Linked DNA regions of Homo sapiens: region 2 is linked to region 1. Evidence: fine-mapped expression QTL. A gene starts in region 1. The other region holds a variant in brackets. All regions are shown on one strand. Distances are between the middles of the regions. Region 1 holds the start of GHDC (GH3 domain containing). Region 2 holds the start of KCNH4 (potassium voltage-gated channel subfamily H member 4).

Region 1 (15,028 bases):
TTGTTCTTTTCCCATGAAGCCCCAGGCTGAGGGCATAGGCTGGCTCAGACTGCTCCCCTGGTGGCCTGTGGGGCTTGGGGTGGTCTCTGGCAGGCTTTCCCCTTCCCTTCATCCCTCTTCTTTCCCTCCCAAGCCCTGACTCAGTCCTTGACACCGATGGGGACTTCGATCTGGAGGACACAATGGACGTAGCGCGGCGTGTGGAGGAGCTCCTGGGCCGGCCAATGGACAGTCAGTGGATCCCGCACGCACAATCGTGACCCCGCGACCTCTCCATCTTCAGCTTCTTCATCTTCACCAGAGGAATCACTCTTGTGGATGTTTTAATTCCATGAATCGCTTCTCTTTTGAAACAATACTCATAATGTGAAGTGTTAATACTAGTTGTGACCTTAGTGTTTCTGTGCATGGTGGCACCAGCGAAGGGAGTGCGAGTATGTGTTTGTGTGTGTGTGTGTGTGTGTGTGTGTGTGCGTGTTTGCACGTTATGGTGTTTCTCCCTCTCACTGTCTGAGAGTTTAGTTGTAGCAGAGGGGCCACAGACAGAAGCTGTGGTGGTTTTTACTTTGTGCAAAAAGGCAGTGAGTTTCGTGAAGCCTGGAAGTTGGCCATGTGTCTTAAGAGTGGCTGGACTTTGACATGTGGCTGTTTGAATAAGAGAAGGACAAAGGGAGGAGAAAGCACATGTGCTCCAGTGAGTCTTCGTCACTCTGTCTGCCAAGCAATTGATATATAACCGTGATTGTCTCTGCTTTTCTTCTGAAATGTAGATAACTGCTTTTTGACAAAGAGAGCCTTCCCTCTCCCCCACCCCTGTGTTCTTGGGTAGGAATGGGAAAAGGGGCAACCTACAAAGATTGTTGGGGCAAGGGAAGTCACAAGCTTTCGGATGGGCGGTGGCTTTTCACAAAACATTTAGCTCATCTTATTCTCTCTTTGTCCTCTCTCCCCTCCTGCCCGCCCGCACCCTGGAATTGCCACTCAGTTCCTCTGGGTGTGCACATATGTTTGGAGAAATAGAGGAGAGAAAAGAGGGCCACGTAACTGAGAGCTTACAGTGCCAATGCCGTTTGTGTTCTGGCCAGAGTGGAGTGCGCAGCCCTGACTCCCAGGCGCTGAGATTGTTGCCTGGTTACCCAGGAAGCTGCTGTTCCGGCTGCCCAGCCTTTCTCTGAGCCAGCGGATGCACAGTCCGTGGCCTTCTTCAGGCTTATTGATGATGCTTTTTGCAAATGTTGAATCATGGTTCTGTTTCTAAGTTGGATCTTTTTTGTTTTCTCCTTGCCACCCTAATTTGACATCAAAATTCTCTCTTGTGCATTGGGCCCTGGGTCATTCAAACCCAGGTCACCTCATTCCCCTTCTCTGTTCACACCTAATGTCTTGAAGAGTAGGTAGCAGCAGTGTGGGCTGAACCTAGGCCAGCTTGCTTAGCGGGTCACCCTGCTGTGAAGTCCTGGCAGGTGTTGGTAATGTGTGGAAATGCAGTCAGCAAGTTTGCTGGGGAGTTTGATAAAAGTATAAAACAAAACAAAAAAAGCCTCGGTATAATTTTGTTCCACGACTTCTTCTGTAGCTTTACACCAGAAGGAAGGAATGGGCTACAGCAGGTAGTGGAGGAAGAGGGGGGTGAGCAGGTGTATTAAAATAGCTTACGGGTAAGGCCTAAAAGGTCACCCCTCGGCCCCCTCTCCAAAAGAAGGGCATGGGCACCCCCAGGAGAGGATGGCCCCAAAAACCTTATTTTTATACATGAGAGTAAATAAACATATTTTTTTTACAAAAATAACTTCTGAATTTATCAGTGTTTTGCCGTTAAAAATATTCCTCTATAGTAAATTATTTATTGGAAGATGACTTTTTTAAAGCTGCCGTTTGCCTTGGCTTGGTTTCATACACTGATTTATTTTTCTATGCCAGGCAGTAGAGTCTCTCTGCCTCTGAGGAGCAGGCTACCCGCATCCCACTCAGCCCCTCCCTACCCCTCAAGATTTGATGAAAATTCCAACCATGAGGATGGGTGCATCGGGGAAGGGTGAGAAGGAGAGCCTGCCTGCTCAGGGATCCAGGCTCGTAGAGTCACTCCCTGCCCGTCTCCCAGAGATGCTTCACCAGCACCTGCCTCTGAGACCTCGCTCTCTGTTCCAGCAACCCTGGTTGGGGGGTCAGACTTGATACACTTTCAGGTTGGGAGTGGACCCACCCCAGGGCCTGCTGAGGACAGAGCAGCCAGGCCGTCCTGGCTCACTTTGCAGTTGGCACTGGGTTGGGGAGGAAGAGAGCTGATGAGTGTGGCTTCCCTGAGCTGGGGTTTCCCTGCTTGTCCAGTTGTGAGCTGTCCTCGGTGTTACCGAGGCTGTGCCTAGAGAGTGGAGATTTTTGATGAAAGGTGTGCTCGCTCTCTGCGTTCTATCTTCTCTCTCCTCCTTGTTCCTGCAAACCACAAGATAAAGGTAGTGGTGTGTCTCGACCCCATCAGCCTCTCACCCACTCCCAGACACACACAAGTCCTCAAAAGTTTCAGCTCCGTGTGTGAGATGTGCAGGTTTTTTCTAGGGGGTAGGGGGAGACTAAAATCGAATATAACTTAAAATGAAAGTATACTTTTTATAATTTTTCTTTTTAAAACTTGGTGAAATTATTTCAGATACATATTTTAGTGTCAAGGCAGATTAGTTATTTAGCCACCAAAAAAAAGTATTGTGTACAATTTGGGGCCTCAAATTTGACTCTGCCTCAAAAAAAAGAAATATATCCTATGCAGAGTTACAGTCACAAAGTTGTGTATTTTATGTTACAATAAAGCCTTCCTCTGAAGGGATGGTATTGAGTCCTGTTTTTACTTTTTTCTGTCACATGCCAAGGGAGGGCAGCTTGAACACGGAAAAGTTTCAAGTCATCAGCGTGACCCTGAAAAAGGGAACTGGTTGGGTGGTTGGGAGTTGGCTGCCTCAGAGGGCACGTCATTAGCTCTGATGGCAGATGGGGCCTTTCATACCTTCCTGCTCATATGATGTTTTGAAAATAAGAATGATGGTCTCCTAGCCTCCTGACTCCAGAAAGCTTGTTAGCCAGGATGGTCTCGATCTCCTGACCTCATGATCTGCCCACCTCAGCCTCCCAAAGTGCTGGGATTACAGGCGTGAGCCACTACGCCCGGCTGAAAGCCTGTCCTTAAGATTCAGCACATTTAGAGTACCTGACCCTGAGTTCAGCGTTGTGTGTGGGATGAGAAATGGTGCCTTCCCTGCAGAGGCTCACAGTTGGAGAAAGGCAGCTACCACAACTGATTATGCTAGGATATCGCTTCCTGCTGCAATCAAGGCATCCCAAAGTCATTATGCAAAAGAACATGCAGGAAGGCCACTGAGCAACTCAAGCTTTTTTTTTATTTTATTTTTTTATTTTAATTGAGTAGCTGGGATTACAGGCGCCACCACTCCCGGCTAATTTTTGCATTTTTAGTAGGGACGGGGTTTCACCATGTTGGCCAGGCTGGTCTGGACCTCCTGACCTCAGGTGATCCACCTGCCTTGGCCTCCCAAAATGCTGGGATTACAGGCGTGAACCACCATGCCCAGCCTGGAGCTGGCTCTTAAGGAACAAATAGGGCCGGGCACGGTGGCTCATGCCTGTAATCCCAGCATTTTGGGACGCCAAGGCAGGTGGATCACCTGAGGTCGGGAGTTCGAGACCAGTCTGGCCAACATGATGAAACCCCGTCTCTACTAAAAATACACAAAAATTAGCTGGGCGTGGTGGCACGCGCCTGTAATCCCAGCTACTTGGGAGGCTGAGGCAGGAGAATCGCTTGAACCCGGCAGGCAGAGATTGCAGTGAGCCGAGATCATGCCATTGCATTCCAGCCTGGACAACAGAGCAAGACTCTGTCTCAAATTAAAAAAAAACAAAAAACCCAGCCATTCCACTTGTAGGTATCTACATAAGAACCATGAGAACATATATGTACAGAAACACTTGTGACAAATGTTCATAACAGCATTATGCATAATAGCCAAAGGGCAGAAACAACCCAAATGTCCATCAACTGATGAATAAACAAAATGTATTATGGTATATCTGTACAATGGAATATACGGCAATAAAAAGGAATGAAGTGCTGACACACAGGACATGATGTTGTCACGGATGAACCTTGACAATATCATGCTAGATGAAAGAAGCCAGGCCGGGCACGGTGGCTCATGACTGGGACTCCAGCACTTTGGGAGGCTGAGGCGAGGGATCACTTGAGTGCAGCAGTTCAAGACCAGCTTGGACAACACGGTGAAACCCCATCTCTACAAAAAAATACAAAAATTAGCTGGATGTGGTGGTGCACCCCTGTAGTCCCACCTACTCAGGAGGCTGAGGTGGGAGGATCACTTGAGCTGTGATCATGCTACTGCACTCCAGCCTGGGTGACAGAGCGAGGAAAAAGAAAAGAAGCCAAGTACAAAAGACCGCATATTATATGATGCCATTTATAGGAAATGTCTAGGATAGGCAAATCTATGGAGACAGAAAGTAAATTTGAGGTTGCCTAGAGGCTGGGAAGGAGTTTGGAGGTAATAGTGAAAGGATACAGGGTTTGGGGGTTTTTTTGTTTTGTTTTTTTTTTTGTTTGTTTTTCTTGAGACAGAGTCTCGCTCTGTCACCCAGACTGGAGTGCAGTGGCGCCATCTCGGCTCACTACAACCACTGCCTCCCAGTTTCAAGCGATTCTCCCACCTCAGCCTCCCAAGTAGCTGGGATTATAGGCGCCGGCCACCAGACCCTGCTAATTTTTGTATTTTTAGTAGAGACAGTGTTTTGCCATGTTGGCCAGGCTGGTCTTGAACTCCTGACTTCAGGTGATCCACCTGCCTTGGCCTCCCAAAGTGCTGGGATTATAGGTGTGAGCCACCACGCCCAGCCTGAGTTTGGGGTTTTTTATTTTATTTTATTTTATTTTATTTTATTTTATTTTATTTTATTTTATTTAACGAATTGGGCAGTCTCCTGAGGCACAGTAGGCTCAGAGAGACTCTGCAGGGTTTGTTTTTGAGGTAAGGAAAATGTTATTATCTGTGGTGTTGGTTGCACATATCTCTGGATATACTAGATCTTGAATTGTACACTAAATGGGTGATTTGTATGGTGTGTGAATTATATCTAATAAAGCTGTTACTGGGCCAGGTCTAGTGGCTTACACCTGTAATTCCAGCACTTTGGAAGGCCAAGGTAGGAGGATCGCTGAGACCGGGAGTTCCAGACCAGTCTGGGCAACATAGTAAGACCCCCTGTCTCTACAAAAAAAAAAAAAAAATGTTTTTAATTAGCTGGGTGTGGTGGCACATGCCTGTAGTCCTAGCCACTCAGAGGCTGGGGTAGGAGGATTGCTTGATCCCCGGAGTTCAAGGTTGCAATGAGCTGTGACCAGGCCACTGAACTCCAGCCTGGACAACAGAGCAAGACCCTGTCTTTAAATAAATAATAAAAGCAAATGCAAGATCTCAGCGAGAAAAAACGTGAAAGTGAGGTGAGTTAGCCAGAGTGAGAACAGACCTGTTGAAAGAAGCTCAGCTGTGAAGGGAAGAGAGGTGCTCAGCAAGTAGTAGCTCTCTTCTCAAAGGTATCCAGAGGCAAGTAAGGGGAGAAAGGGAGTGGTTTTAGTGTTTTGAGAGCCTAGGTCAAGAACACACCAGCCTGGGCAACATAGGGAGCTCTCTCGTCTCTACAAAAAATAAAATTAGTTGAGCGTAGTGGTGCGTACCTGTAGTTCCAGTCCCTTGGGAGGCTGAGACAGGAGGATCTCTTGAGCCCAGGAGGTTGAGGTTGCAGTGAGCTATGATCGCACCACTGCACTCCAGCCTGGGCAATAGATCAAGACCCTGTCTCAAAAACAAAAAACAAAAAAAGAGAAGTTTGTAATTTTCCTTGGGATAAAGGCAACAGGCTAACACAGATGGTCACCCAGTAACCAGGTAAAGTTAAGATAAACTATATGTGACTGGCTGGGTGCAGTGGCTCAGGCCTGTAATCCCAGCACTTTGGGAGGCCGAGGCAGGTGGATCACTTGAGGTCAGGAGTTTGAGACCAGCCTGGCCAACATGGTGACATGGTGAAACCCCGTCTCTACTAAAAATACAAAAAATTAGCTGGGTGTGGTGATGCGTGCCTGTAATCCCAGCTACTCGGGAGGCTGAGGCAGGAGAATTGCTTGAATCTGGGAGGCGGAGGTTGCAGTGAGCTAAGATCGTGCCATTGCACTCCAGCCTGGGCAACAAGAATAGAACTCTGCCAAAAAAACAAAAAAAAAGAAGTTTGTAATTTTCCTTGGGATAAAGCCAGCAAGCTAACACAGATGTTCACCTAATAACCATGTAAAGTTAAGATAAACTATGTGACTGGCTGGGTGTGGTGGCTCACACCTGTAATCCCAGCACTTTGGGAGGCCAAGGAGGGTAGATCACTTGAGGTCAAGAGTTTGAGACCAGCCTGGCCAACATGGTGAAACCCCATCTCTACTGAAAATACAAAAATTAGCTGGGCGTGGTGGCACACACCTGTAATCCCAGCTGCTTGGGAGGCTGGGGCAGCAGAATCGCTTGAACCTGGGAAGTGGAGGTTGCAGTGAGCTGAGATTGTGCCACTGCACTCCAGCCTGGGCAACAGAGCAAGACTGTGTCTCAAAAAAAAAAAAAAAAAAAAAAGATAAACTATATGTGACAAGTCCTCTTACTTGAGGACTCGTTATTGTTTATCTTGAAAACGTGTATGTAATGGGTTGTATGCGCTTGGCTATACAAAAAAGTAAGATTTCCTCCCTTCTTTGCAAGCTCTTAGCAGATCACCTGTCATGTACATCACATTGTGGTTGAATGCTTATTCAATAATAAAATTGTTTTCTTTCTCAACTACCTTGAGGGAGAGGATGGGGTTTTTTTTGTTGTTGTTTTTGTTTTGTTTGTTTTTGAGACGGAGTTTCGCTCATTGCCCAGGCTGGAGTACAATGGCGCAATCTCAGCTCACTGCAACCTCCGCCTCCCAAGTTCAAGTGATTCTTCTGCCTCAGCCTCCCAAGTAGCTGGGATTACAGGCATGTGCCACCACATCTGGCTAATTTTGTATTTTTAGTAGAGATGGGGTTTCACCATGTTGGTCAGGCTGGTGTCAAACTCCTGACCTCAGATGATCCACCCGCCTCAGCCTCCCAAAGTGTTGGGAATACAGGCGTGAGCCACCGCGCCCAGCTGAGTTGGGGTTTTAAGAGTTCTTAAGCTTGCCCCTCTCCCAGCTCAAGTGGCTTAATGGCGTTCTTTCCCACACACACCTTTCTGTTCCTTCACCTGCGCAAGTTTGAGGACCATGCTAGTCTGGTCCTAACTGCCCCAACTGCCAGCCTGGGCTAGCACCCGACATGAAGTCCTGTAGGCGACCTGCCCCTTTAAGAGCACCCCCCTCCTTCAGCTCCTCCCTCAGGCCTGGTGGCCGGATTTCCCAGTTGGGGCCCAGCCTTTTAAAGCCATCGCTCCTTCTTTCTGGCCGGATGTGTGCTGAGACCCAGAGTCACCCAGGGGTCTCCGTCACGTGCCAGGAGTAGGCAGAAGTGGGCTGTGACAGGTGCATGTGGGCATGGACCCCACAGCCTGGGGCTCAGGAGGGACAAGGAGCTGGGACAGGGTGGATCCCGAGAGAAAGCAAAGCCACTCGGGAGTGGGCAAGAGATATCGTTACGCAGCTGCTGTGTGCCCGACCGACCCTGTCCGAAACCCTTCCTGTACCTTCCCTTCCTCTTCCTTCTTTTCTCCCTTTTTTTTCTTTTCTTTTTTTTTTTGACAGGGTCTCACTCTGTTGCCCAAGCTGGGGTGCAGTGGCACGATCTTGGCTCACTGTAGCCTTGACATCCTGGGCTCAAGGGATCCTCCCATCTCAGCCTCCCAAGTAGCTGCGACTATGGGTGTGACACCACGCTGGGCTAGTTTTTCAATTTTTTGTAGAGATGGAGTCTCCCTATGTTGCTCAGGCCGGTTGCAAACTCCTGGGCTCAAGTGATTCTCCTGCCTCAGCCTCCCAAAGTGCTGGGATTACAGATGATAGCCACCTCACCCGGCCCACCCCTACCTTCTGAAAGAGGCATTCTTATTCTTATTCCCATTTTGCAGATCAGGAAACAGAGCTCAGTGCAGCCCACTAAATTGCTCAGGGCCCTACAGCTAACAAGCGGCAGAGGCAGGATCTGCACTCAGGTCAGTGGGACTCCAAAGCTTTGATAGTCTCTCCTTTGCATCACCTGCCCCACAGGGTCCTGCCTTCTTCCCAATTTCATTTTTCCTCGGTTTTCCTGTATGCAGTAGAGCGTGGGAGGAGAAATGGATAATTGCTGCATGCCCCCATATCTCGGTTCCTTCCTCTTCCCAGGAGCTGCTTGGAGATGCTGCTGTGGCCACTGCTGCTGCTGCTGCTGCTGCTGCCAACATTGGCCCTGCTCAGGCAGCAGCGGTCCCAGGATGCCAGGCTGTCCTGGCTTGCTGGCCTCCAGCACCGAGTGGCATGGGGGGCCCTGGTCTGGGCAGCCACCTGGCAGCGGCGGAGGCTGGAGCAGAGCACGCTCCATGTGCACCAGAGCCAGCAGCAGGCCCTGAGGTGGTGTCTACAGGGAGCCCAGCGCCCCCACTGTTCCCTCAGAAGGAGCACAGGTGTGTTTCCCAGGGTCTGGGGAGGTGACCCAAAGAGAAAGAAACCCCACAGGACCGTCAGATTCCAGAGCCTGATGGCCCCCTTACCTCCTCCACTGCCAACGGAGTGGCCTGACCCAGAGACCCAGGACTGGCTTTCTTGTCCAAGATGAATTTCCCATGCTGGGTCCTTACATCCTCTCTACCCCAGGCCTATTCTCGGTTCCTCCCTCAAGGGTCTCACCAGTCTTGCCTGAAACTCTTGGGAAACTGGCTTCCTGAGGCGTTTCTGTTGTCATTGGGGCTATAGACATAAGCACCTTCCGGAATCATCTCCCTCTGACCAAGGCCAGCCAGACCCAGCAGGAAGACAGTGGAGAGCAGCCACTGCCCCCGACCTCAAACCAGGACCTTGGGGAGGCCTCTCTGCAGGTAATCTAGGATGGCCAGAGCCCAGTCCTGGCCACAGCCCAGTCCCACCAGAGACCTCTGACTTGCAGCCAAACCCTCCAGTCATGGTGGGCAAAGAACCCCCAAATGGGGGCTCTGGGTCTGGCTCTGACACCAGACCAACATTCTCTCTTTCCTCCTCCAGGCCACCTTGCTGGGTCTGGCAGCCCTAAACAAGGCCTACCCAGAAGTGCTGGCTCAGGGACGCACTGCCCGTGTGACGCTTACATCCCCTTGGCCCCGACCCCTGCCTTGGCCTGGGAATACCCTGGGCCAGGTGGGCACCCCTGGAACCAAGGACCCTAGGGCCCTGCTGCTGGACGCACTGAGGTCCCCAGGGCTGAGGGCACTGGAGGCTGGGACGGCTGTCGAACTTCTGGATGTTTTCTTGGGCCTGGAGACTGATGGTGAAGAGCTAGCTGGGGCGATAGCTGCCGGGAACCCTGGAGCGCCTCTCCGTGAACGGGCAGCTGAGCTCCGGGAGGCCCTAGAGCAGGGGCCACGGGGACTGGCCCTTCGGCTCTGGCCAAAGCTGCAGGTGGTGGTGACTCTGGATGCAGGAGGCCAGGCCGAGGCTGTGGCTGCCCTCGGGGCCTTGTGGTGCCAAGGACTAGCCTTCTTCTCTCCTGCTTATGCTGCCTCGGGAGGTCAGTGGGACTCAAGGGCAGTGAGGTGGGGGCAACGGTCAGTGGTCACATGACAAGCAGCCATGCATTGGGCCCTACATAATCATCTCATTTAATCCTCCCCAACAAGCTGCATGCTAGGGCCAGCAGCCTCCTTTTACAAGTGAAGAAATTCAGGCTCTCTAGGTTAAGAGTCTTGTAGCTGGGTGCAGTGGCTCACGCCTGTAATCCCAGCACTTTGGGAGGCCAAGGTGGATGGATCGTTGAGGTCAGGAGTTCCAGACCAGCCTGGCCAACATGGCGAAACCCCATCTCTACTAAAAATACAAAAACTAGCGGAGTATGGTGGTGCACGCCTATAATCCCAGCTACCTGGGAGGCTGAGGCGGGAGGATTGCTTAAACCTTGGAGGCAGAAATTATAGTGAGCTGAGATCGCGCCATTGCACTCCAGCCTGGGTGACAGAGCAAGACCCTGTCTCAAAAAAAAAAAAAAAAAAAAAAGGCCGGGGCAGTGGCTCACGGGTGTAATCCCAGCACTTTGGGAGAGGCTGAGGTGGGTGGATCACCTGAAGTTAGGAGTTTAAGACCAGCCTGGCCAATGTGGTGAAACCCTGTCTCTACTAAAAATACAAAAATTAGCCAGGTGTGGTGGCAGGCGCCTGTAATCTCAGCTACTCAGGAGGCTCAGGCAGGAGAATCACTTGAACCCAGGAATCACTGAATCACTGAGCCGAGATCGCACCACTGCACTCCAGCCTAGGTGACAGAGCGAGACTCTGTCTCAAAAAAAAAAAGAGTCTTGCACAAATTCATGTGGCACCAGGATTCACTCCCAAGTCTGCCCCCTCCAGGACCACAGCACTCTGCCTCTTTCCAGTGAGGGCCTAAGAGGCAGCCCGCTGAGGCTGGGGGAGCCAGGAAGGATGTGGTGGAAGGGCAGCAGGAGGATCAGGTGCTCAGAGGATCAGGCCTGGGATCCAGGAGGGGCTATTGCCTGGCAGAAAGCGATGGCACCAGCAGACGCTGAGGAGGCTGCTTTGCTTTCACAGGGGTGCTGGGCCTAAACCTACAGCCAGAGCAGCCCCATGGGCTCTACCTTCTGCCCCCTGGGGCCCCCTTTATCGAGCTGCTCCCAGTCAAGGAAGGCACCCAGGAGGAAGCTGCCTCCACCCTCCTTTTGGCCGAGGCCCAGCAGGGCAAGGAGTATGAGCTGGTGCTGACGGACCGCGCCAGCCTCACCAGGTGATCAGCTGCACAGCCCCTGCTACCTGGGGCCCTATGGGACCGTGCTGGGGGCCTGGGGCATGAGCTCAGAAGACCTTGGGCCCGACCTCACTCCCACTTGCACCCCATCAGGTGCCGCCTGGGTGATGTGGTGCGAGTGGTTGGTGCCTACAATCAGTGTCCAGTCGTCAGGTTCATCTGCAGGTAGGTGACCCCGGGGAGCTGAAGGGCCATCCTTGTGTCCTGGGCTCCACTGCCTCTCCCTTCCTCCTCTTCAGGCTGGACCAGACCCTGAGTGTGCGAGGGGAAGATATTGGTGAAGACCTGTTCTCTGAGGCCCTGGGCCGGGCAGTGGGGCAGTGGGCGGGGGCCAAGCTGCTGGACCATGGCTGTGTGGAGAGCAGCATTCTGGGTGAGCCTCCCCACCGGCTCCTGCCTACCATCCTTGAGCTACCCTTCAACTCCTACCTCCCCTGCCAGGGGACTGCTAGGAAAGAGATAAGCCTCCTTTACTACTCCTACAAAAGTCCTTCTCTGCATCTAACTCTCATCCATCCTGCTGCAGTCTCTACCCATTTTCTTTCCTGATCTGTCTCCTATTTAGGATCAAGCTCTAGGTTCCTCTCCATTTACCCCACTCCCCACCAAGAAACTCTTTTTTCCCTATGAATCTCAGAGTGGGGAAGAACAGATAGGGCAGAGGACACTAGACTTGGCAGCTGCCCATTCACCGGAAGTATGTGTGCACATGGGGTCTATTCACAGATTCCTCTGCGGGCTCTGCTCCCCACTACGAGGTGTTTGTGGCGCTGAGGGGGCTGAGGAATCTGTCAGAGGAAAATCGAGACAAGGTAAAGGAGACGAGGACAGGGTCTGACTGTAGACCCCTTCACTCTGCACACTCCCAGGGTGCCATGGAGATCAGGGCTGATGGGAAGGAGAGGGGTGGCGGAGGAGAAGCTCCCTGGGGCTCTGGGAGGGGAGGGCTAAGTCCCACAGACACACACCTGTCCACACAAAACTTCTAAACACATGTAGCCTGGGCACAGCCACACACGCCTCGTGTGCACACTCACAGTCACACACCAGCTCACTCAGGCTGTTCTGTTCCCAGCTGGACCACTGCCTTCAGGAAGCCTCTCCCCGCTACAAGTCCCTGCGGTTCTGGGGCAGCGTGGGCCCTGCCAGAGTCCACCTGGTGGGGCAGGGAGCCTTCCGAGCACTCCGGGCAGCCCTCGCTGCCTGCCCCTCCTCCCCCTTCCCCCCTGCGATGCCCCGGGTCCTTCGGCACAGGCACCTGGCCCAGTGTCTGCAGGAGAGGGTGGTGTCCTGAGTCAAGTCCTGCCCCACCGCCCAGCTCCCCCCAGAGGCCACCTCGCCCCTCCCTCTGGGACCTCTCCGGATGGGGAGTCCTTGGCCAGGGTCTCTGACTCTGTGTCACCTGACATTTGCCCATGAGAGCCGCTGGGCCTTAGAGAGGCCTTGGCCCAGCTGACCGGTTCTGAAGTATGGGCCTCCGGGGTTAGCAGATGCCAGCAGTGCCTGCCCGTGTCCCCATGTCCCGGCATGAAGGACACTGCTAGAGAGTTACCATGCACACCGATGGTTTCCTGTATCACAGCCCAAAGAGGTTCTCTGGTGGCCACAGCTGTGTGCTCAGTCAGTGCACTGGGCAAGCTAGAAGTGTTGGGGGGTTAATGTCCCCAGGAGCAGCAACCCTGAGTCAATAAGGAGCAGGACCTCAGCTTCATTGTCCTTGAGCAGGACAATTCTGAAGTGTATTCTACATAAACTCTCAGAGGATGCCCAGCAGGATGGAGTCCCAGTTGCCCGCAGCAGTAACCCACTCATTCATGTACTTCCTGCGGGGGCTCTCCCTTCCCTCTCTTCCCCACTCCCCCGCCTTGGGCTTCCTGGGATGGCTCCCAAATAAACCTCTTGCACCCAGATTCTTGCCTCAGGGTCTGCTTTGGGGAAACGGGAGTGGACCCCGGCCCAGCCATTCCCCCACTGAGCTCCAGGACTTTCCCCCAACATTCTGCTCTGGGCCTGGCAAGGCTGCATGCGCACACAGGAGCCTTGGAGGACTCGTGGCACATCCTAGGCCAGCACCCACAAACCACTTCTGCGGTGGGGAAGGGAGAGCTATTACTTCACATCATAAGGCATCGCCGCAGGAAGCAACTCCGGAGACCATCTGGGTTCACTGTTCCATACTAATGAGGAAACGCAGCCTCCACAAGGTTGTAGAGGCTAAAATAAAAGAAAGAAAGAAACTGGGCTAGATTTTGGCTTCCTTCCCTCCCACTGCCTGGACTGGAGTTTTAAGGTTTTCCATCTTGGAGGCTGATGGGAGGGGCAGACCTCAGCTCCTCCTCAGTAGAGGCAGCACTGGATCCAGATGCCTCTGAATAGCTTCTCCATTCCATGTCCCACACCCAGGTCCTGGCTGCATACCCACCCGGCCCCCACCTCCGCCTGTCACTCCATCCTGTTAAAATCTTCCTGTGAAGCTGGGCACAGTGGCATGGGCCTATAGTCCCAGCTACTCAAGAGGCTGCGGTGGAAGGATGGTTCATGCCCAGGAGTTCAAGACCAGCCTGGGCAACACAGCGAGACCATCTCGGGAAAAAAAAACAAAAAAAAAAACCTCCCATGGTGGCCCCCATCGCCCACAGGATTAAGACCAATCAATTTGGCCTATTAGACCCTTTGACCTTGGCCCTCACCTACATGTGCAGCTACCTCTCTCCCCTTGCTTGAAAGAAGGCCTGGACTAAGGACCACGCCTCACCTCCCATCTAAGGGTTGTTAAGCACTGTCAACTCCAGGAGTTTGCTCAAGTTGTCCCTTCTATGTAATGCCCTCTATCCCGCTGCCCCTGATGTAAACTAGCTTTCATGCAAGGCCTTTGAGGACCCCCTACCAGGCCCACCCCAGGCAGAGTGACTGGCTCAGCTTTGCTCATGTGGGCAGTAGTCCTCTCCTTCACTGAACTATCATTATGCCTGAACTGCCTCCCACCTGGAATATGAGTTCCTTGGAAACTGGGCTAGATCCTGTGCACAATTGCCCCCATGCCCAGTGCCTGGTGTGGCATGCAGCAGGAGCTCAATAAAGAGGTTGTAGGCCAGGTGCCATGGCTCATGCCTGTAATCCCAGCACTTTAGGAGGTCGAGGCAGTCAGATCACCTGAGGTCAGGAGTTCAAGACCAGCCTGGCCAACATGGTGAAACTGTGTTTCTACTAAAAATACAAAAAATTAGCTGGGCATGGTGGTGTGCACCTGTAAACCCAGCTACTTGGGAGGCTGAGGCAGGAGAATTGCTTGAACCCAGGAGGCAGAGGTTGCAATGAGCCAATATCGTGCCTTTGCACTCTAGCTTTGGCAACAAGAGTGAAACTCTATCTCCAAAAAAAAAAAAAAAAAAAAAAAAAAAAAAAAAAAAAAAAGAGGTTGTGAATAAGAAGCTTGGGCCTGGAGATGACATGTGTTCTTCAATGCATGGCGGCTCACTCCGTGTTGACTGTAGAGTGGGACTACATTCCTCCCCTCCAGGTAGCCTGAGCCAGGGAGAAAGCTGGGGAGGTAGAAGCTTTCTATCAGCCTCTGGTAGAAACTGAGTTTGGTCAGGCACAGTAGCTCACACCTGTAATCCTAGCAGTTTGGGAAGCTGAAGGGGGAGGATGGCTTGAGCCAGGGATTTGAGACCAGCCTGGGAGTCCCAGTCTCTACAAACAAATTTAAATATTAGCCAGGGATTGTGGCATGCATCTGTGTGGTCCCAGCTACTTGGGTGGCTGAGGTGAGAGCATTGCTTGAGCCGTGGCATTTGATGCTGCAGTGAGCTATGATTGTCCCACTGCACTCCAGCCTGGGTGACAGAGTGAAACCTTCTCAAGAAAGAAAATAAAGAGGGCTGGGCGTGGTAGCTCACGCCTGTAATCCCAGCACTTTGGGAGGCCGAGGCGGGCAGATCACGAGGTCAGGAGATCGAGAACATCCTGGCTAACACAGTGAAACCCCGTCTCTACTAAAAATACAAAAAATTAGCTGGGCGTGGTG
Region 2 (15,028 bases), 20 kb after region 1:
AACAACAACAACAAAAGTAGAGACACAGAAAAATGTGGCACTTCTTAGCAATCTAACATCCCAGATAATACCTAGCTCAGAGGGTGGGGAGAATTTAGCCTGCCCTCCTTGCCCATAGGGTTCCCACTTTCACTGCTTCAGCTGTTTTGTCGTGGGAAGCAGCCACCCTCAGCCACAGAACTCAGCTGCCTCAATTTTCTGCATAGGTAGTGAGAAAGTCCTGTGTCTAGTCTCACTTTGGTCCCTCTTGCTGCTGTACTGGTTCCATCTTGGAGAAGTTAGAGGTCAAAGTTCACATGTGCATCCTTGGAGATTTGCAAGCCATGACTCTGCCCACCTCGAAACTATCTTTTTCAGAGGTAGTTTCTCCCAAACTTGCCTCCAGCCTCTCTTCCACTTGAAGGGCAGCAGAGAGGAGGATTAAGACAGTAGGAAGAGGGAAAACAGGCAGGCAACTGCCCTTCAAGACACTTATTTTGTACCAAAGACATGCATTATGGTATTACATTCTCACGGTAACTGCATCAGGTAAGAATTATCAGCTCCATTTTACAGATGAGGAAAGTGGGCTTGGAGAGGATATCACACGATTGGTGTCTAGAGCTGGGACTCTACCTGGTGGACTCCAAAGCTCTTTTCATTCCACCATGCTGTGTCTCAGTAGGCAGAGTTCGCCAGGGTGTCTTGGGAAAACTGAGGCAGGAGGTAAGAATGGTGCTTTCTAGAGTTGGGGTTTCAAGCCTTCCCATTGTCCATTCTCTACCAGCAAACTAGCCTCTTAACCCTTGCTGTCTCACGCTGGAGCTACTGGCCTGTGGGTGCTGCGAAATATGTCAACTCCAGTAGGCGGCACTGTGAACCAGACACCAGCCCAGCGTGGACGCCGCGCGGGAAAACCCGCGAGGTGGAGCCACAAGGAGCAGCCAGGGAACCACGTGTGGAGGCGTGGCCAGCCTGGAAGAGGGCGGGTCTGTTATTCAAGCCCCGCCCATCATTTCAGGCCTCCCCTCCCGGTGGGCGTGCCCCGAATTCTCTCCCCGAGAGACACGCGTGGGCCGCTCCCCTCTGGGAGGAGGGCTGCCCAGAGGGGTGCGGGTGTCGCTAGCGGCCCCTCCCCGTGTGGGGCCACGTGGCGGGTGCGGGCCGAGCCCGAGGGGAAGAACCTGGCCCGTGGGGAGGTGGGGGGGACCGAAACGGCGCTGAGCCGAGCCGAGAGCTACGGGGTTCGGAGCAGAGGCAGCGGCAGCGGCAGCGGCAGTAAGAGGGAGGGGAGGAGGCAGGAGGGCGCATGGGGCGCCCCGGCCCCTCCGACAGCGCGCCCCCTCCGGCCCGGCCGCGCTGAAAGCTCCCCAGCGCCGCGCCTTGAACCCACGCCCCGGGGCCATGCCGGTCATGAAGGGGTTGCTGGCCCCGCAAAACACCTTCCTGGACACCATCGCCACCCGTTTTGACGGAACGCGTGAGTGGGACGGAGGTCGGGGCTTGAGGTTCGAGCTGGGGGGCAAGTATCCTCGGGGCCGTCTCGGATCTCCTGGACATGGTGAGACCCGAGGCGAGGGGAGAGAATGGAGGTGCGGGTCTAGGAACTCCCAAAGCCGCGGTGCAGGAACAGGGCGGGGAGTGCCCTGCGAGGGGAGGAGGGGAAAGGGCCGAGAGCACGGGGGCCAAGGTTAGGGGGTGTGACTCGAGGCAGAAGAGGCTCTTTGTGCGGCAGAGCGGAGGAGGGTCCTTCGGAGCCGCCCACTCTCGGGCAGAGCTGTGCTGGGGGCGTGTATGGGGGTATCCGAGACACAGAAGTGGGGCAAAGTGGCCGGGCATTCTGGGGTCTACTCACAGACTCCAGCTCCCACTACCTCCAGAAAAAAAGGAGAAAAGATCAGACTTCAGCAGGACCTAGTTTGGATTGAGGTCGCGCGCCCCCAAATCGTGGGGCGTCAGTGTCTAAGGTGGGTGAGGCAGGAGGAGGGGAGCGGTCTGTGCGACGGTGGGAACTCCCAGCTCGCCCAACGTAGCTTGGGTTTCAGGTTCAGCACCTTGGACAGCCACATCACTCCTCCCCCGCCTCTTCTCCCGCCATTCCCTCTTCCCACTCTGGAACCCAGAGATTCCCCGCCCTCACCTCCCCCAACCCCGCCATTCCCTCGGGAACCCTGGCCGGGATCTGGATGGTGGGGGAGCGGTACCCGAGGGCGGAAACTGAGCCGCCGGGCCCTACCCTCTTCCCCACCACCTTGTTTCCATAGCGCCCATCACCGGGGCAACAGGCCCTGGGATGGAAGAAGGAGGCTGTGCCCAGAGCCCAGTGCCTCCCAGGCACCTTCAGTGTCCCCATCAGCCTCCCTGCCCCCAGACAGTCATCCCTCCTAGAGCACCAGGACTGGTTGTGTCACAGGCCCCATCTCTTAGCTGAGTCTCTGTCCCTGGATGGCCCACAGGAGTCCCCCTGGCCTCCCACCCATTGGAGCTGGAGGGAGACAGCTCGGGTTCTGCTGCTGGGGGTTGCTGGAGCTATACGCTCAATGCCCTCTCCCATTAGACTTTGAGCAGTGGGGCAGATCCCCTGAAAGCAGCTACAAGAATGCTAAAAAGTGGACCTTCTCTGGAAGGCAGGGAAGGAAGACAGCACTCATCACTGTCTGCCCCCACACTAAGGAGATCTGTGAGTTTGGATAATCTCTGCCTTTTGGTTTCCTATCAATAAATGGGTGTGGTGTCATCAGAATCTCTGCCCTGCTTACTCTGTAATAGGAAGAAAGCCAAGTGAATGTGGGGAAAAAATTTCACCTTCTCAGAGTAGCACTTACCATGTGCTAGGACTTGTTCTCCCCAAGTTAACTCATGTAACTCTCACAACGACCATGTGAGGAAGGCCTATTATGCCCTACTTTGCAAATAAGGAAAGCTTAGGCACAGAAGAGGTCATCAACTTGCCCAAGGTCACACAGTTAGTAAGTGGCAGTGGAGGGTTGCAGGAGCCCAGGCTCTTACTCACCATGCTATACTGCCTTCTACAGTGACAGCTCACCAGTTGGAAGGCAGGGGGATGGATGGCATGACCTCCTGGGGTCCTTCTCCAACTCCCCGTTAGACCCTGCTTAAGTCCTGTCTCAAGTCCTTGTCTCTTTGCTCCAACTTCTCCAATTCTCAATTCAGAATATCCCAAAGTGGGGTCAGGAGCAACATGGAAACCTGGGAAGCTTCTGGCTCTGTGACTTCTAACCCCAACTTAGAGGAAGTGCTGCCCACCTGGAAGCTAGCTCGCCTCCCAGCCTTGACCTGACCTTGACCTCTTCTTCCCACAGACAGCAACTTCCTGCTGGCCAACGCACAGGGCACACGGGGCTTTCCCATCGTCTACTGCTCCGACGGCTTCTGCGAGCTCACAGGCTACGGTCGCACCGAGGTCATGCAGAAGACCTGCAGCTGCCGTTTCCTCTACGGCCCAGAGACCAGTGAGCCAGCCCTGCAGCGTCTGCACAAAGCCCTGGAGGGCCACCAGGAGCACCGGGCTGAAATCTGCTTCTACCGCAAGGATGGTGAGGGGGCTCACCCCACCCTGCAGCTCTGCCTAGACCCCTAGCCTTATCCAGAGGGCACTGGGCACAGTAGGAGTCTGAGTGCTTGTCCCCACACTGCCAAAAGCTGACTGTGACGGAGCGTATCCCTGACCTCTCTGGTCCTGGGTTCCCCCATTTGAAAGATGAAGGAATCGGCTGACAGAATCTCTGAGGTTCCTTTTGGTTCTTGCTTTGCCAAGCTCTTAACTATGTCTAGGAGGATGAGAGGGATGAGGAGAAAGGCATGCCATGGGGCTGCCCATGCTCCTCCCTTCCCTCTCTCCATGCCTACAGGCTCAGCCTTTTGGTGCCTCCTGGACATGATGCCCATCAAGAATGAGATGGGGGAGGTCGTGCTGTTCCTCTTTTCCTTCAAGGATATCACTCAGAGTGGAAGCCCAGGACTTGGCCCCCAAGGAGGCCGCGGGGACAGTAATCACGGTAACAGCAAGTCCGGACGGGCAGTGTGAATGGTCAGAAGCCTTCGCCTAACCAGCCGCAAGGGATGTGCCCCAACGTATCTCTGCACCTTTCTTCCCAACAGAAAACTCCCTTGGTAGAAGGGGAGCCACCTGGAAATTTCGGTCTGCCAGAAGACGGAGCCGTACTGTCCTACACCGACTGACCGGCCACTTTGGCCGCCGGGGCCAGGGAGGCATGAAGGCCAATAATGTGAGTCCCACCCCCAACCCAACATCTCCCAAGTCCTCCAGCCTTGATTCTGAGGCACCCCTGCCACTGTCTCCCCACTTCCCTGTCTGTCTGGTGTCCCTCCTTGGCTTGCTCCTCTGCCCACCCATTTCCCATATACTACTCTATATGGTATATGCTCCATCCTATATCCTCCCCCAACATCCTTCTATCCCTATCTCCCTCATTCCCTTAGGTGATTGACATTACTTTGCTCCGATGATGTCACATTGCTCTAGCAGCAATGACCTCACCTGCCCGGGGGTGATAGGGTTATACCATGGGTGGTGAAATTGCAAGCTGCTATAGTTCTAGGGAGAAAGCCCTCATTGCAGGCCTGGCATCTAGACCTGTGTACCACCTCCTAGGATCCTGACCAAGCCAGGGGATTGAGTCCCCAACCCTCTGTTAGGGATACAGGGAATGCGGTGGGCTATGCCAGCCTCTGCTCCCTGCTGGGATATACCCAGCCCCCACTGGGCCCCCAGAACCCAAGAGGAACTTAAGGGAGAAGTTAGGTACCCCTCAAGCTAGGGCATGTGCCGATTTGTCATAGTCTTCTTCTCAAGTAGGATGAGTGTTGGGCCAGGCACAGTGGCTCATGCCTGTAATCCCAGCACTTTGGGAGGCCAAGGCAGGAGGATTGCTTGAGGCCAGGAGTTCTAGACCAGCCTGGGCAACATAGTGAGACCCCTTTTCTAAAAAAAAAAAAAAAAATTAAAAATTATCTGGAGGCCAGGCGCAGTGGCTGATGCCTGTAATCCCAGCACTTTGGGAGGCTGAGGCAGGCGGATCACCTGAGGTCGGGAGTTCAAGACCAGCCTGACCAACATGGAGAAACCCCATCTCTACTAAAAATACAAAGTTAGATGGGTATGGTGGCACATGCCTGTAATCCCAGCTACTTGGAAGGCTGAAGCAGAAGAATCACTTGAACCCGGGAGGTGGAGGTTGCGGTGAGCCGAGATTGCACCATTGCACTCCAGCCTGGGCAACAAGAGTGAAACTCTCAAAAAAAAAAAATTATCTGGCTATGGTGGTGCATGCCTGTGGTCCCAGCTACTCTGGAGCCTGAGGCAGGAGGATAGCTTGAGCCCAGGAGTTTAAGGCTGCAGTGAGTTATGATGGTGCCACTGCACTCCAGCCTGGGCACAGAGTGAGACTGTCTCTAAACTTAAAAATGTAAAAATCAAGTTGGGTGAATGTCAAGCCTCATAAATACCCTTGACAAGACATGATTGGTTCAAACAGGGGCCTGGGGCCGGGCACAGTGGCTCACACCTGTAATCCTAGCACTTTGGGAGGCTGAGGTGGGTGGATCACCTGAGGTCAGGAGTTCAAGACCAGCCTGGCCAACATGGCGAAACCCCATCTCTACTAAAAATACAAAAATTAGTCAGGTGTGGTGGCATGTTCCCGTAGTCCCAGCTGTTTGGGAGGCTGTGGCAGGAGAATCACTTGAACCCAGGAGGTGGAGGTTGCAGTGAGCCAAGATCATGCCCTTGCACTCCAGCCTGGGTAAAGAGCAAGACCCTATCTCAAAAAAAAAAAAAAAAAAAAAAAAAAAAAAAAGGAGGAGGGCCTGGGAAATACTTGGCAGGAGAAGAAAATGTCAGGTGTCAGCCTCTGCGCCCCTCTCCTGGCCTTCTATCTCCTTTCATTCATGGTCAAAAGTGCCCTTGCAGTGCCCACCTGCTAACTTTCCCCATCCCCTGCCTTTCCCACCCCCCATCTTGGCTCCTCTTTCCCTCAAGTGTCCCCAACCGCCACCCCTCTCCCCTTAGAACGTGTTTGAGCCAAAGCCATCAGTGCCCGAGTACAAGGTGGCCTCCGTGGGGGGGTCTCGCTGCCTCCTCCTCCACTACAGCGTCTCCAAGGCCATCTGGGACGGCCTTATCCTCCTTGCCACCTTCTACGTTGCGGTCACCGTCCCCTACAATGTCTGTTTCTCGGGTGACGATGACACCCCCATCACTTCGCGACACACCCTTGTCAGCGACATCGCCGTGGAAATGCTCTTCATCCTAGGTCAGACCTTCTGCCTCACCCACCCTGGTGGGTCGGCTGGGGGGATCCACTTGGCCAAGCCTCACCCACTCCTGGGGCCCACATGACCCAGACATTCAGAGCCCCTTCCTTTCTGCATCTTTAAGTCCCAATGGCCCATGTGTCCTGCTCCCCGCAGCCTTCAGCCTTGTAACCTATCCTCCCTAAGGACCAGCCAGAAGCCCAATCTATCTCTCCATGCCTGCCTCCTCCTCCAGTCTCCAAAGCTTGTTCCCAGCTTTGTCGGTTTCTTGACCCCTTTGCCAAGGCCCCCCAGTAATAGCCTCTTGCACCCCCAGATATCATCCTGAACTTCCGCACCACCTATGTGTCCCAGTCCGGCCAGGTAATCTCTGCTCCTCGTTCCATTGGCCTCCACTACCTGGCCACCTGGTTCTTCATCGACCTTATTGCTGCTCTGCCCTTTGACCTGCTTTACATCTTCAACATCACCGTGGTGAGTGACCTCCATCCCGCCATCCAGTCCAACCTCCCAACTTCAGCACAGCATCTTCCAGGAAGGGACTGACCCCAAACCCAGATATGCCCCTTCCCATCAATCCATCTGCAGATATTTATCAGGCACCTGCTCTGGGCATAGCCCTGTGCTAGGTACTGGGAGGATCCCGAGGGTCTGTGATCCTGGGGAGCTCAGCTCACAATCTTTGAGGGAAGCTGAGACAAATGAAAAGCTAACTATGGCTACCAAGGCGGCATTGGTCTGATGCCAAATGAGTGGTACTTTTCACATTTTTATTTAACAAACAACTGATGAGCATTTAGCTGTCTGCAAAGCACTGTGTGGGGCATGGCCACTGTGGGGAAAGGGAACAAGGATTCAGCCTCTAAACAGCCAAACTGGTGAGGGGGCAGGAATGCCACAGAGCACATCAGGGACAGAAGAGGTGAATGGGGGTGGAAGATGGGGCCCGGGTATGCTACAGAGGGGCTGGGCTGACCTTGGAGTTCCAGGCTGGAACATGAGTGTGTGTAAAAATGATCTGAAGTCTGGCCAGCACCTGGGAAGCAAAAGCGCCCTTGTTGGGCAGAGGCTGGAGGGGTCTGGGAAGGTTTCCTGAGGGAGGCGGAGATGGTATAGCTAGACCTTAAAGGGTGAGTAGGATTTAGCTGGAAGGAGATGAGGACAGCAAGCATTTGGGGGAGCATAGTAAACCTAGACAAGAAGGTAGAGGCTGTGGGGTGAATTCAGAGGCAAAGAATGCCAGGACCTGAGTCCTCACAGATCCCTGGGGACACTCTGGAGGTGCCCTGAGTGGTCATCTGTGGCCCCAGCCAGCAGATAGTAGGTCTTCTCAAGTCCAGGGTGGGGCAGTGCTACCCCGTGTCCCCAGGCCCCCTTGGGTGTGGGGCGGGCAAGTGGGGAGCAGTTTCCTTGTGTGCTCTCTCCCTGCACTCAGCTATAGCAGGAAACCACCTACACGCAGCCGAATTTAACTAGCCGCCAACGGGCTGTGGGCCTCCTCTCCTGGCTGTGCACACGTGTGTGCGTGCTCCCACACACGTGCATGTGTGTACGTCTGCCTCGAGGCTCTGACCATTCTGAGCAGATCTCCCTACCCCTCCCCAGGGGTGCGCCCACCCCTCTATGCCCACCAGGCACCATCAGCTGGGGAGTGGGACACTACAGAGAGCCCCCTGCCCCTCCTCTCAGGTCCCTTTGGGAGCACGTTACAGTTCCCTATGTTCTTTCACACTCATCATCACATGGGAGCCCCACGGGAACCCTTCAGGGCAGAGGCTTATCCTTTTTCAGAGGTAGGTACAGAGGCTCAGAGAGGTTCAGTGACTTGCTGAAGGTCACATACCTAGCAGGGGCAGGCAGGATATTAGAACCAGGTCTCTCCACCCTGGGCAACAGGTGAAACCCCTTCTCTACTAAAACACAAAAAATTAGCCGGGTGTGCTGGCACGTACCTGTAGTCCCAGCTACTCGGGAGGATGAGGTACAAGAATTGCTTGAGTCCCAGAGGTGGAGGTTGCAGTGAGCCAAGATAGCTCCACTGCACTCCAGCTTGGCCGGGCGCAGTGGATCACCCTGTAATCCCAGCACTTTGGGAGGCCCAGGCGGGCGGATCACGAGGTCAGGAGATCAAGACCATCCTGGCTAACATGGTGAAATCCTGTCTCTACTAAAAATACAAAAAAAATTAGCCAGGCGTGGTGGCAGGTGCCTGTAGTCCCAGTTACTTGGGAGGCTGAGGCAGGAGAATGGTCTGAACCCGGGAGGCAGAGCTTTCAGTGAGCCGAGATTGCGCCACTGCACTCCAGCCTGGGCGACAGGGACTCTGTCTCAAAAAAAAAAAAAAAAAAAAAAAAAAAAAGAACCAGATCGCTAAACTTCCAGTCTAGTATTTTTTCCAACATACCACCCTGCTTCCCAGGTAACCAGGGCCCCTGAGTGGATGGTCTGGTGAGATGAGGAATACCACTGGGGGCCAGAGAGAGGTAGAGCAGAG[A/G]CAGAAGATGAGCAGGCACTGGCAGAGCTGCAGACTTGAAGGAGCCAGGCCTGGATATTCTAGTCCAAGGAGAATGACAGGAGTATCCCCAAGAGAGTGGCCCAAGGGCAGCTGACTGAGGGAAGCCCTGAAGAACTCAAGCTTGCAGTCAAGGGCTCTGGGAGCTGGGGGTAGGCATTAAACCCTGGCGAGGGTCCATATGGAGGAATCAGAGCCACCTCCTTTCCAGTTCCTTCACCTAAAATTAGAGAAAAATTGCACGAGGTGGTCCAGGAGCAGTGTAGGGCCAGGGCTGTGGGGAATGTTCCTGGAGGCCCAGGAAGGGGCAATGAGGGGCTTTCATACCAAGTTCCCCAGGCACTGCCCCAGAGCCTCCAGTCCTAGCTGCCAGGCTGCTCCCACCCAGAAGATAAGCCCTGCCCATCTCCAAGATTGAAGGGCTAATCAATATTGATAACCACAATGCAGATGGTACTTGGGGTAATATTAGTGAATATGGGACACTTACCAGGTACCATTATCTCCGTCAACCCCTAGCACAGCCCAGCCTCCCTCAGTCCCTGCTCTCCTGCCCCCTCAACTCTTCTGCTTGACTCTTCATCTGCAGCCGATCCACAAGAAGAAGTGTCCATAAACCTCCCCCAGCCCTCAAGTCCTTGCCTGTCCCCACTCCACTATGCTTCTCCATGTCTTAAAGGGGGGTCCCCATCACAATTGCTGCCGTCGCTACTGGGGCTCTGCAGAGACTGTTGCCTATCCCCTGACTCTGACTAGGGCCGGCTCCCCTACCATCTCCCAGTGCTTAGTGGCTGTAGAGCACAAGGTGGACTGTGGTGTCAGTCAGCCCAGATGCCCACCCTGAGTTCCAACTCTATCGTGTCCTTGGTCTGTGACCTTGAACAAGTCATTAGCCTCCCTGAACCTCAGTTCATTCATCTGCAAATTAGGAATGATGATAATTGAACTAAAGGTATAAGTGTGTGTGTGTGTGTGTGTGTGTGTGTGTGTGTGTGTGTGTGTGTTGTTAAATAAGGATTACCAATGCTTAGCACAGTGCCTGGCTAAGCACATAGAACGTACTTACTAAGGCCGGGTGCAGTGGCTCACGCTTGTAATCCCAGCACTTTGGGAGGCCGAGGCAGGTGGATCACGGGGTCAGGAGATCGAGACCATCCTGGCCAATGTAGTGAAACCCTGTCTCTACTACAAATACAAAAATTAGCTGGGGAGGGAGGCTGAGGCAGCCTTGAATCGCTTGAACCTGGGAGGCAGAGGTTGCAGTGAGCTGAGATCTCGCCACTGCACTCCAGCCTGGCTACAGAGCGAGACTCTACCTCAAAAAAAAAAAAAAAAGTAATTACAAAGTGTTAGCCACTGTTTGTTTTATTGTTATTATTCCCTTGCTGCTGCATTCCTTGGCCACTTTCTCAGGACAGCAAAGATGTCTTTCCTGTTGCAGCCTGCCCTGGCTCCAGGTTGTCTGGTGGGAAGGCCCTGGGAGGGGACTCTGAGGGCTCGGAGGAGGTGTGCCTGCTGACAGCCTCCCCCGCCACCTTCCTGCAGACCTCGCTGGTGCACCTACTGAAGACAGTGCGGCTGTTGCGGCTGCTGCGGCTGCTGCAGAAGCTGGAGCGGTACTCTCAGTGCAGTGCTGTGGTGCTCACGCTGCTCATGTCGGTCTTTGCGCTCCTTGCCCACTGGATGGCCTGCATCTGGTATGTCATCGGGCGCCGGGAGATGGAGGCCAATGACCCGCTGCTCTGGGACATTGGTGAGCCACCGACCCCAAACTTTCACAGACCACCTGTCCACCTGTCCCATCCCCAAGCTGATGCCTCCACCAGTACCCACACCCCTCATCCCACATTCCTCTATCCATCCAACAAACATGCGTTGAGCTCTTTCTGGATCAAGCATGGGAATATTGATTTGCAGACAAGGGCTCTGTTTTGGGGGCAGGTTGGGGGGAACTCACAGCCTAGTGGGGGAGCAAGACCAGTGATAGTGATCAAAGTACAACGCAGGAAACACTCTGAGGGTGGAGGGGTGTGTTTCAGGCAGAAGGAGCAGCACGTGAAAAGTCCCAGAAAGAGCTTAGCATCTCTGCCCCCATCAATCCCTTCTTCTCCAAGCTTCATGGCCATGAGCCAGGAGACAGCCCCAGGCCCTTGGAATCCCTCTGAAAGGCCTGTCAGATCCCGGGCATGGTCCCTGACACCTCCCTTTCCTTTACCCCACACCTAGCCCACCACATCAATACCACCTCTCAAATGTCCCGTGAATTTGACCTTTTCTCTCCATCCTCTCTGCCCCTTCCCAGTCCACTCCACCTCCCTTTCTCACCCAGGCCTGTGCAATAGCCTCCCTACTGATTTCCCAATCCCCTTCTCATCCCCCCCACAACCACCATCCTCACCACAGCCAAATGGGTGTTCCAGGATTCAACGTTGACCCACTACACTCCTTCTGGGATTCCTTCAGTGGCTTCCCACTGCCCTCCAAATGAAGTCCACACTCACTGCACACCCTGGGCGGCCCTGTGCCCCTTCTCTCCCCACCTGCCTTCCCGTTCTCCCGTGCTCCCTGCGCTGCAGCCACACCAGCCTCTCCCCTGGACCCAGGACATACTGCTTTCTCATGCTGGGCCTGGAACATGTTCTTTTCCTCTCTGGAATCCTCCTCTTTTGTCTTCCCTCTCCACCTAGATGGATTTTCCGTTCCCTGCCTCACTTGGAACAATGTTCCTTCGGTTCCATGTGTCTCAACCAAAATGTCCTGTCCTAAGGAGCATGCCTTCCAGGCACCATGTCCAGAACCCCCAACTGCCAATGGGTTGGCTTTCCCTAACCTGTTAGGATTCCTAACACACCCTATACAATACTTTCCTTCCAGGAGCTCACCTCCCACCTGTAATGATTTATGTCATGTCTCTTTCCCCTCCAGGCTATAGGTTCCACCAGGGCAGGGAGAGTGTTTGGCTGGGTCAATTCCCCAACACTTTGTATACAGCAGGTGCACAATAAACTATTAGAAAGTTTCAGGAGCCTTTGAACACTCAGCAATGTAGTTAGTTGGCGGCCTTGGAATGCAACTGTAACCAATGCACCATGGGGAGACACAGGCCCAGGCCACTCCCCACATTTCCTGTGCCAACCTGTGTATAAATACTTGCCGAAGGTCAAGCGTAGGTGGCTCAGGGAACCCTGGTTCTCCACCGCTGGCACAGCCAGGGCTCCCTGCATCCGTCCACCCTGCAGGCTGGTTGCATGAGTTGGGCAAGCGTCTGGAGGTGCCCTATGTCAATGGCTCGGTGGGCGGCCCATCACGGCGCAGCGCCTACATCGCGGCACTGTACTTCACTCTAAGCAGCCTCACCAGTGTGGGCTTTGGCAACGTGTGTGCCAACACCGACGCGGAGAAGATCTTCTCCATCTGCACGATGCTCATAGGCGGTGAGGCCAGACCTGCCACGCCTCAGTGGGGCCCTGCGAAGCCCAGCATGCACGGGGAAACTGAGGCCCAGAGAGGGCAAGACATCTGCCCGAGGTGTCTACCCAAGTCCAGACAGTCACGCATTCATTCACGGACGTTTCCTGAGTGCCCACTATGTGCTGGCCCTGGGGATGCCACAAACAGGCGTGGACTTTTGCAAAGGGGATGGGAAACCCAGGTTCATGACCTAATGGTGGGGAGGCCTGAGAGGAGCATGGGGTGTTACCCATCTCTGGACCACTCCCTATTCCCCACCCTTAGTCTAGTGCCTGGCACCTGGTAGGCACACAGGAGCCCGCTGGCTCTTGGTCCAGGACAGGGTGGGTTTGGGAGCTGGGGAGGTGGCCAGAGGGGTGGCCGCCCCTGACAGGCCCGCTGCTGCTGCTGCAGCCCTGATGCACGCTGTGGTGTTCGGGAACGTGACAGCCATCATCCAGCGCATGTACTCGCGCCGCTCGCTCTACCACAGCCGCATGAAGGACCTCAAGGACTTCATCCGTGTGCACCGCCTGCCGCGGCCGCTCAAGCAGCGCATGCTCGAATACTTCCAGACCACGTGGGCCGTCAACAGCGGCATCGACGCCAACGAGGTAGCCTGCAGGGTCTCCAATCTTGCCCTTGCCCTCCGCGTGGCCCTGCAGTGGGGTGGGGAAGGAGTCGCTGCCCCTGTAGCTTAAAATGGAGGCAGGCCGAACTCGGCTGCTCACACCTGTAATCCCAGCACTTTGGGAGGCTGAGGCGGGCAGGTCACTTGAGGTCAGGAGTTGAAGACCAGCCTGGGCGACATGGTGAAACCCTGTCTCTGCTAAAAATATGAAAATTAGCCAGCTGTGGTGGTGCACGCCTGTAATCCCAGCTACTAGGGAGACTGAGGCACGAGAATCACTTGAACCAGGGAGGCAGAGGCTGCAGTGAGCCAAGATCATGCCACTGCACTCCAGCCTGGGTGACAGAGCTAGACTCTGTCTCAAAAAAAATAAATAAATAAAATGGAGGCGCTGAGCGCAGTGGCTCACACCTGTAATCCCAGCACTTTGGGAGGCCGAGGTGGGCGGATCACAAGGTCAGGAGATCGAGACCATCCTGGCTAACACGGTGAAACCCCATCTCTACTAAAAATACAAAAAATTAGCCGGGCATGGCAGCGTGCACCTATAGTCCCAGCTACTCAGGAGGCTGATGCAGGAGAATGGCATGAACCCGGGAGGCGGAGCTTGCAGTGAGCCGAAATTGTGCCACTGCACTCCAGCCTGGGCGGCAGAGCGAGACTCTGTCTCAAAAATAAAAATAAAAATAAAAATAAAAAAATAAATAAATAAAATAAAAGGGAGGCAAACAGGGCCCGGGGGGTGAGGTATTGTTCACAAGGGCACACATTTGCCCAAAATACAAATTCTTGCTTCTTTTCTTTTTTTCTTTTTTCAAGAAGGAGTCTTGCTCTGTCGCCCACGCTGGAGTGCAGTGGTGTGCTCTCAGCTCACTGCAACCTCTGCCTCCCAGGTTCAAGGAATTCTTCTGCCTCAGCTTCCTGAGTATCTGGGATCACAGGCACCTGCCACCATGCTCGGCTGATTTTTGTATTCTTAGTAGAGACGGGGTTTCACCATGTTGGTCAGGCTTGTCTCGAACTCTTGACATCGTAATACACCTGCTTCAGCCTCCCAATTTGCTGGGATTACAGGCGTGCACCACCACAGCCGGCCAAATTCTTGTTTCTTTGCACTTGAATAAGGGAATGAAAGAGCTCAGGGCCCAGCTGATGCGACTCTCCCTTCTGCCAACATTTCCTGAGTGCCTGCTTTGGGCCAGCCTTGGTGCTGGGCACAGAGAGCTTAGAGATGATGACACTTAGCCCTGGCCCTCAGGGAGACCCAGAGTATTGAGGGAGGCAGAAAGATGAACAGAGAGTGCCGCGCTGAATGGGGCTGTAAAGGAGGGATGTCGGTGCCTTCAGGTCCTCATTGTGCCTGGGTGGGGAGGAGTCAAGGAAGGTGGCAATGCCAGGTAGAAATGGCCTTAGGGACACAGGCCAGAAGTGATGGCACAAAAGAGCAGAGTGAGCGCTTTAGGGAACTGAAAGCGGCTCAATAAGCCCGCAGGAATGGGCATGTGAGTGCTGCGGAGGGAGAAGGCAGGGCAGGAAGGCACGACATGGGCTGGGAGGCAGCAGGCCCAGCTCAGGGATGGCCTAGAATTTAGATTTTATCCTGCTTAATGTTTAGACTGGGGAGTGGTGTGGGGATCTTGGAGGGAATGGGTTGGTGAGGTATCTCTGAGGATGGGATCTGTGGGACGTGGTAATCTCCTGCTGGTTGCAAGAGAGGAGCTCAGAGTGACTCCCAGTTTTCTGGCTTAGGCCAAGGGTGGGGATGGAGGCATAACAGGGGGAAGATGGGCTTTGGGATGAAGGTGAGAGTCCCGGGTCAGACCAAGAGGAGGGTATAGTGCCTGGGGGAGGTCCAGAGAGAGGCTGCCCGGTAGGTAGATGGGAATCAGCTCTTGGCTGGGTGCGGTGGCTCATACCTGTAATCCCAGCACTTTGGGAGGCTGAGGCGGGCAGATCACCTGAGGCTGGGAGTTTGAGACCAGCCTGGCCAACATGGTGAAACCCCGTCTCTACTAAAAATACAAAATTAGCTGGGCGTAGTGGTGCGTGCTTGTAATCCCACCTACTCGGGAGGCTGAGGCAGGAGAATTACTTGAACCTGGGAGGCGGAGGTTGCAGTGAGCTGAGATCGTGCCACTGCACTCCAGCTTGGGTAACAG

The links. PIP is the estimated chance that this variant, and not a neighbour inherited with it, causes the effect.
Region 2: its variant is fine-mapped to the expression of GHDC in whole blood (TOPMed, PIP 0.98).

What each region holds. Positions count from the first base shown.
Region 1 is chr17:42,186,970-42,201,997 of GRCh38, reverse strand. It overlaps GHDC (GH3 domain containing), which reads left to right and starts at 7,504. Exons shown (of 10, transcript NM_032484.5): 1 at 7,504-7,605; 2 at 8,148-8,231; 3 at 8,404-8,681; 4 at 8,971-9,092; 5 at 9,256-9,757; 6 at 10,788-10,980; 7 at 11,095-11,166; 8 at 11,241-11,374; 9 at 11,728-11,813; 10 at 12,077-12,911. The coding sequence starts at 8,417. The coding sequence ends at 12,295. STAT5B (signal transducer and activator of transcription 5B) reads left to right here. Exons shown (of 19, transcript NM_012448.4): 19 at 134-2,821. The coding sequence ends at 260. RefSeq lists enhancers at 7,362-7,591, 8,486-9,016.
Region 2 is chr17:42,167,301-42,182,328 of GRCh38, reverse strand. KCNH4 (potassium voltage-gated channel subfamily H member 4) reads left to right here and starts at 1,187. Exons shown (of 17, transcript NM_012285.3): 1 at 1,187-1,459; 2 at 3,303-3,536; 3 at 3,852-3,998; 4 at 4,102-4,229; 5 at 6,032-6,275; 6 at 6,593-6,750; 7 at 10,334-10,541; 8 at 12,028-12,222; 9 at 12,653-12,852. The coding sequence starts at 1,384. RefSeq lists silencers at 756-1,031, 1,038-1,277, 12,144-12,438 and enhancers at 2,227-2,794, 3,445-3,946. The variant A/G (reference allele first, on the strand shown) is at 8,771.